2 linked regions of the Homo sapiens genome follow. The protein of the gene in region 1 interacts with the protein of each later gene in a pairwise test. Each region holds a gene or a part of one and is shown in the gene's direction. Other genes may lie near its edges.

What was found.
Region 2: the proteins of MLYCD (region 1) and IDI1 come close enough for resonance energy transfer, tested with the Homo sapiens proteins (one large-scale study listed by BioGRID).

Annotation. Positions count from the first base shown.
Region 1 is NC_000016.10:83,901,852-83,905,675, forward strand, and holds part of MLYCD (malonyl-CoA decarboxylase, mitochondrial), read left to right. Parts: intron 1-3,824. UniProt on the Homo sapiens protein: Catalyzes the conversion of malonyl-CoA to acetyl-CoA.
Region 2 is NC_000010.11:1,038,999-1,042,822, reverse strand, and holds the end of IDI1 (isopentenyl-diphosphate Delta-isomerase 1), read left to right. Parts: intron 1-60; coding exon 61-191; intron 192-1,318; coding exon 1,319-1,636; 3' UTR 1,637-3,404; downstream 3,405-3,824. UniProt on the Homo sapiens protein: Catalyzes the 1,3-allylic rearrangement of the homoallylic substrate isopentenyl (IPP) to its highly electrophilic allylic isomer, dimethylallyl diphosphate (DMAPP).

The DNA of each region.
Region 1 (3,824 bases):
ACTGTAATGCTAGGCCAAAAGTCCTGTGGACCAGAGGTGTTTATCAAACAGAATGAATAACGACAGTCTGATCTTTGCCTCTGCATATGGTTTGGACATAATGGCTTCAGGAGCCTTTCTGTGATTGCTTTATTGTGCCCCTTCCATTTCTTTACCTAGAAACCCCAGCCTTATATTCAGTGCATGTAACTGTTAGTAGCTGAACCTATTAATTCCCTTCCCCTTCCCTTGTTCTACGTAGTTGTTTTCTCATATATACACATATATATGTATGTGTATATGTGTGTGTGTGTGTGTGCGTGCGTATATATATATATATATATATATATATATATATATGGTTTTTTGTTTTGTTGTTTACGGTTTTTTGTTTGTGTTTATTTTTTTGTTCATGTTTATGTTTTTTCTTGTTACGTTTCCCAGGCTGGTCTTGAACTCCTGGCCTCAAGCAAGCAATCCTCCAATCCCAAGTGCTGGGATTATAGATAGGTGTGAGCCCAGATGTAATTTTTTTAAAATCCCTGTCGCTTAAATCAGTCTTAGAATAGAATTAGATTGTTCTGTACCTATAAACTATCAACTGGGATCTGATATTGTAACCTCTCACCAGAATCACTTAATGTGGTATGATCTGATCTATTTTTTTAATCTGATTTTTTTTTTTTTTTTTTTGAGACAGAGTCTTGCTCTGTTGCCCAGGCTGGAGTGCAGCAGCACAATCTCTGCTCATTGCAACCTTCGCCTCCCAGGTTCAAGCCATTCTCCCACCTCAGCCTCCTGAGTAGCTGGGAATACAGGTGCTTGCCAACACATCTGGCTAATTTTTGTATTTTTAGGAGAGATGGGGTTTTGCTATGTTGGCCAGGCTGGTCTGGAACTCCTGACCTCAGATGATCCGCCCGCCTTGGCCTTCCAAAGTGCTGGAATTACAGGTGTGAACCACTGTGCCTGGCTGTGTTCTTACTTTTTAAAATGTTCTTTTCCTCTGATCTGAGTGAGTTTGGAGGCTTGTTACTGCCTGGATTTGTGGCCTCCTGAATGTAGAGGAGTTTGGAGGTATGTGTGTCCCTGTGGTTGCATGGTAGGTGTGGGTATGAGGATGTGATGTGTCTGGGGGATGGTGGTTTATAGGCTTTTTGTTTTTCTCCAGAGGCCCAGTTGGTTGATGACTTCAGTTTCTTAGAGGTGAAATCCCAGTGAAACCGAGTCGAATCCCCAGTAGAGGGGAAGGTCTGAGCGAGGTTCAGTGATTTGTGGGCACTCGAGGAAGGTTGGCCTTTAATTCATGGAAAGGGTTCCTCATGGGCAGTTTGGACCTTGCTGTTAGGGTGGAATGAGAGGTGCTCCAACCTTAACAGAGGCACAGAAACTAGAGAAGGGACCTGGTTCCCACTGCCACAGCCACCCGGCCATGCTAGACACCTGCGTACCCTCTGCCTTTTAGTTAATTGAGTACTCCTTGTTGGTTCTAGTAAATTCTGTGCTTACCTATGCTAAATAATACTTATTTTTAGATAGGACAGTATACCCATAGCATCAAGTGTACACCTGCGGAGTGTCAGCTTACGTGAGTGGGAATTTTCCCCAAATTTCTCAGCCTCTGCAGTGCTACCCTCATCCATGACTTTATCCTCCCTTCCCCAGAGCAGGGCTTCTGGACAAGGGAAGGTAACTTTTCTTCACATACCAAAATAAGCAGATCTTGATAGAGCTTCAAAAGAGAGGGAACCAGTTTCTCTTTTAAAAGGAAAAGTGGGCTGGTCTAAACGGTGTCATACAAGTCAATGGAATTAACAATACACAATACACAGAGCCGGGTGCAGTGGCACGCACCTGTAGTCCCTGCTACTTGGGAGGTTCAGCTGAGCCCGGAAGTTCAAGTGCAGCCTAGGCAACAGAGCAAGACCTGCCTCTGAAAAAAAAAATAAGAAACACTCCAGCAGAATCCACTGAGAACTGTCGCTGCCCTTAGCATCACCAGGATATTCCCCGCAGTTGTGTTTCTCAGTCTTGTATTGGTGATAAATGGTGCCTGAATTAACGCACGTACAGTTGCAGAGGCCTCTTTCCCTGGTGGTGTTTGTATCCTGGCAACGTTGCCGCGTGCTGTGGCTCATCCCAGCCTGAACAGCTGCTGCCGGTGTTAGAACTGAGCAACGGAGACTTCTAACCTTTAGCCTGGATTCCCAGTTCTCGTGTACCAGTGTCACATTTTGTAGCTGTCAGGAGCCCAAAATAGAATGAAGAGATCTGTAGGGGAGGAGCTTTCATCAGCCAAACCATTTCTTTCATAATTAATATTAAATTGATAGTAAAACTAGGTATTTCCAGCTTTTTTCATATCACGAATGTAAGACAGATACCAGTACCTCTTACGCAGAGCTCAGCTCATCCGTTCCTAAACTGGGGTACAGAAGCCCTCCTGGCCCCTGGGATGGTCCATAGATAAGTATCAGAGGAGTCCATGTACCCCAGGAAAACGTATGCACAATTTTACTAATGTATTTGCAGTGTTTTGGGGGCAGGGCCTATGGTTTTTAGCACGTAAGAGTGTGAGAGGATCCCAGGAAGATTAAGAATTGCTATAGTCAAATGCAGAAAGTACAGTTTTACAAAGGGCCATTCTGTGTCACCTAGCAAATGATCTCTTTCATCCTGCCCTCTTGCTACTTCCTAATCACGATTCATTCCATTTTTCCATCTTTTTCATTTGATATCAATCTATTAGTGAATGCTTTGCGAACTATAAAAATGAATCAGAAGTGGATCCTGCTTTTATGGCGTTTACAACCAAGTAAAGGAGATTGAGTCATGGAATGTAGAGTTAAAAGGAATTGCAAAGATCTTCTGGTCCAGCTGTCTATCTAATGCTTAAATCCGTTTTCAAACAGCTCCGTTGAGTTCTGTCCACCTGTGCTTGATGGCTTCCAGTGCTGAGGGTCACCGTCTCCCAGGATGACCTCTGTGGACAGCTCCAGCTATTCAAAAGTTCCTCTTTACACTAAATTGAGTCCACATCTGACTGCCCATGACTTCCACCAGTCAGTCCTAGATTTCCTTCCCCGGCCCCCATGGGGTCACACAGAACAAATTTGTGGCCTCTTTCGTGCCCTAGTGCTTAAACATGTAAAAGGAGACCTCATCTCCTTCCGAAAACTTCTCTGAGCCATCACCCCAAAACCTGCAACTCTTTCTCAGGCGTCAAAGTTCTGAGTCCTTTCACCCTTTAACAGGGATTAAAATGTAAAATTGTTTTATAAAATTTGGAAGCTGAGACAGGAGAATCGCTTGAACCTAGGGAGCAGAGGTTGCAGTGAGCCAGGGTTGCACCACTGCACTCCAGCCTGGGTGACAGAGGAAGACTCCATCTCTCAAAAAAAAAAAAAAATTCTAGCTGTTGTAAAGCCATTCTTATAGGTGTTGCCCATTGTGTTCTTTATGACCCTTGTAGAGAGATTCAGAAGGTCATTCTTGTATCAGATGTCCTGAGATGTTTACTGTTATTTAATAATAATGTTCAGTGGATCTGTTACTATGTAGTTTATGAGTAACAAAGACCCAAAATAACAGTGATTTGAATATGACAGAAGTTTGTCTGTCATGTGAAAGTCTAGAGGTGGGCAGCCCAGAGCTGATTCTGCTCTTTGGTGCTCTTGGTGGATTCAGACTTGAATCTTGTTGCTCTGCCGAGAAAAACCTTCATCTCCAAAGCCACGTCGTGGCCCAGGATGGCTGCTCCAATGCCAGCCATCACACCGCCTTCCAGTCTGCAGTGGAAAGGACAAAGAAAAAGATGGGCCAAGGGCCTGCTCCTGCTGTCTTTT
Region 2 (3,824 bases), on another chromosome or scaffold:
TTGATCTTTCAGACCTACTTTGAAGAAAAGTTGATCTGTCTCTGTATTACCATTTTCCAGGTTGTTTTACGAATACGTGTTGTAGTCATCCATTAAGCAATCCAGCCGAGCTTGAGGAAAGTGACGCCCTTGGAGTGAGGCGAGCAGCACAGAGACGGCTGAAAGCTGAGCTAGGAATTCCCTTGGAAGAGGTAACCAGCTCTCCTACACAACCATACAAGCTGAAACCTAAACATACTATAAAAAGGTTTTTAATAAAATTTTTAAATTCAAATGTAGTTCTCTGCTTGGTAACCTCCGGAGTTATGAGTTAGCCCCACAAACCATCTTGAATAAAGATTATTTAAATTTTAATTTCTTAATATCACTTGTCAAAACTTAGCTCAATACGGGGATGGATTGATCTGTTAAGCACTATATAAGGTTGAATATTTCTATAATTGATCAAATCTAAGATGAGTATTTTCAAGTGTTACAGCTCTTGTAGAATTTAACTGACAGGTTTTCCAGTTCTCACCTAAAACTCCCCACCTACAAAAAAGGTGAAGATTTTCTGATGGAAACTCTTAGGAATATGAACCATAAATCTCATTGGTTTAATTGAAATCATTTTTTTTCTTGGAATTGTCCCCCTTAAATAAGACCTGGATAAATAAAGTATTTCTTATCTATATTTTCCAAAAAGCAATTTTAAAATATGAAAAAGAAAAATGTCGGGCCGGTCGTGGTGGCTCACGCCTGTAATCCCAGCACTTTGGGAGGCTGAGGCAGGTGGATCACGAGGTCAGGAGTTCGAGACCAGCCTGACCAACATGGTGAAACTCCGTCTCTACTAAAAATACAAAAACTAGCTGGGCATGGTGGGGCGGCACGTCTGTAATCCCAGCTACTCAGGAGGCTGAGGCAGGAGAATCGCTTGAACCTGGGAGGCGGAGGTTGCAGTGAGCTGAGATCACACCATTGCACTCCAGCTTGGGTGACAGCAAGACTCCGTCTCACAAAAAAAAAAAAAAGAAGAAAAAGAAGAATGTCACATTTCTAGTTTGAGTGACTGCCCCTTTTTTTAACATTAAAAAAAAAAAAACTTATCTGATCGGGAAAAAAACGCAAACACTTGAAACTAATGATGTAATCATTTTTCCATATATAATATTAAGATTTCCATATACCATTGATAGGAGATTAATGCTTTAACCAAGTTCTAATCCTAAAACTATACTGCTGTTCGAGATATCGCTGTAATACAGTGAGCTAATTTTAGATTTTTTTTGTTACGGTGGCCGATGTTTTAATTACTTTTTTTTTTTTAATGTCTTAGGTTCCTCCAGAAGAAATTAATTATTTAACACGAATTCACTACAAAGCTCAGTCTGATGGTATCTGGGGTGAACATGAAATTGATTACATTTTGTTGGTGAGGAAGAATGTAACTTTGAATCCAGATCCCAATGAGATTAAAAGCTATTGTTATGTGTCAAAGGAAGAACTAAAAGAACTTCTGAAAAAAGCAGCCAGTGGTGAAATTAAGATAACGCCATGGTTTAAAATTATTGCAGCGACTTTTCTCTTTAAATGGTGGGATAACTTAAATCATTTGAATCAGTTTGTTGACCATGAGAAAATATACAGAATGTGAATATGTAGGTAAATGATTACAGAAAAATTTATCTGCTTAACAAACTTAGAATGACTTTTTCCTTTTAAATTTAGTTCTATCATTAATTTATCATTAAATTTAGTTCTATCATTTGGTACTATCATTAATGTATTATATACACTGATACTTTAAAACTTGTGTGGAAAAAACTAACTTATAATTTTGTATCACACACCCTGGATATGTGTTCTGTTTCTAAGCGACATTTGTGAGAGATTATTGTAAAATGAGAGCGAGCAAATAAAACTTAATTTAATCTTTGCAGATACATACTTATGGGAAATTTGAACAAATGAGTGAAACTCTGTTTTTAGTAGGCTGTGATAAACATTTCCGGAGCACTTGCAGAGGACTTGCTATTTGCCAGGTGCTTTATGTATCATTAAATTTTTCTCATAGTTCAGAAAAATGTGCAAAGGAAACTATTGTCTCGCTCCTTCAAAACAGTCTTAATTAACTTTCATATTAGCAGATTAAACTAGCAGAGCAGGTTCAAGGGAAATTAAATGATATGGACCCTAATTTGTATCATTCTGAGTTGATTGTGTGGTTTATTCATTCTGGAAACATGTTGATACTTACAGTCAGCCACTGCTTTTGATAAGTGATATTGATTAGGTTGAATCTTCTTGTAAATAGTATTTACCAGTTAGCAAAGTCTGTGTTTTCAGAATTACAGTGAGCACAGAGGTGTTCATAAAATGGGAATTGAGTCCCACTCGGTAAGAGTTGCTTAAACTTGACACTGTTGACATTTGGGCTGGATAAAACCCCTGTGGTGGGGTCTGTGCTGTGCATTGCAGGATGGTGAGCAGCGTCCCTCTCATGTGACACCCACAGTTATGCCGGATGTTGCCAGATGCCCCTAGGGGACAGAGTCAACCCCCAACTGAGGACCACTGTCCTACAGAGTCAGGAAATATTGTAGGGAGAAAAAAATAACAACAACAAAGGCCTGTGTTAATGTTAAATAGATGAGATTATGGAATGTGTATATTAATGTTAAAAATTGTACCTTGATCAATGTACTTTTTATAAACTTGCCATAGATATCTCAGATTTGAAACCTCAAGACAGATTTATTATTCTTAAATGCTGTATGATAATGAAGAAAAATAAAAATTTATTTCTTGCAAAGTTAAATGTTTGTTAAATTCAATAGAATGACTCATTTATGGTTAACTTTGGGCAATTTATAATTTCAGACAAGACTGTTTAGCAAGTATTTTATTGAAAAGTAAAAAAAATTGCAATTTAATACTGTGTTTAGTTTGTTAAAATTTTGATACACTAATAGGATATTGCCTGTATAGTTTCCGTTGCATTTATAATATTGTTTCTAATTTTTTTAGTTTTATTTTCTAGGAAGTTTTAGGCTGAAAGCCACATATAATTAGTTATGTGATAACTATGAGTTGCCATGGCTACTGAATTGGACATGGGACCCTTAGACTGCTACCCAGCACCTTGTTAAGTACTTAGCAAGAGTTAGATACTACTGTTGTAATATTACTAGGATGCCATCCAGAAAATGTAAGGAATGTCTTTTGACCTGATAAACTCCTTAGAACTCCTTCATCTTTTATAAAGAGGAGTATCCCTCTCCTAGATATAGCTGCTTCTGACCCCAAAGGCAGATGTGTTGGTTTTCAACTAGAAAGCTAAATGGTACCTATAAATTTTTTTTTTCTTAAACTGTTTTAAACTCTTAATCTTCAAAATATATACTTCTTTGATTCTGGTCAAACCATTGCCAACTCCTTTAAGGACAAAGTAGAGGTGGCCTTCTAATAATTGCTGATTCTGTTTCCCTACCTATATTATCAAGAGAACAAGACCAAAACAGAAAATGGTATAATAGGAAGGAAGGCACATTTTCTTCTTACTTGGCCCTGGCACCTGGGGACAAGTCCAGGTCGTACCCGCAGTGCATCCCTGTGGGAACTGCCCTCCACCTGCTCCCTGGGGACACGTCCAGGTCGTACCCGCAGTGCGTCCCTGTGGGAACTGCCCTCCACCTGCTCCCTGGGGACAAGTCCAGGTCGTACCCGCAGTGCGTCCCTGTGGGAACTGCCCTCCACCTGCTCCCTGGGGACAAGTCCAGGTCGTACCCGCAGTGCGTCCCTGTGGGAACTGCCCTCCACCTGCTCCCTGGGGACAAGTCCAG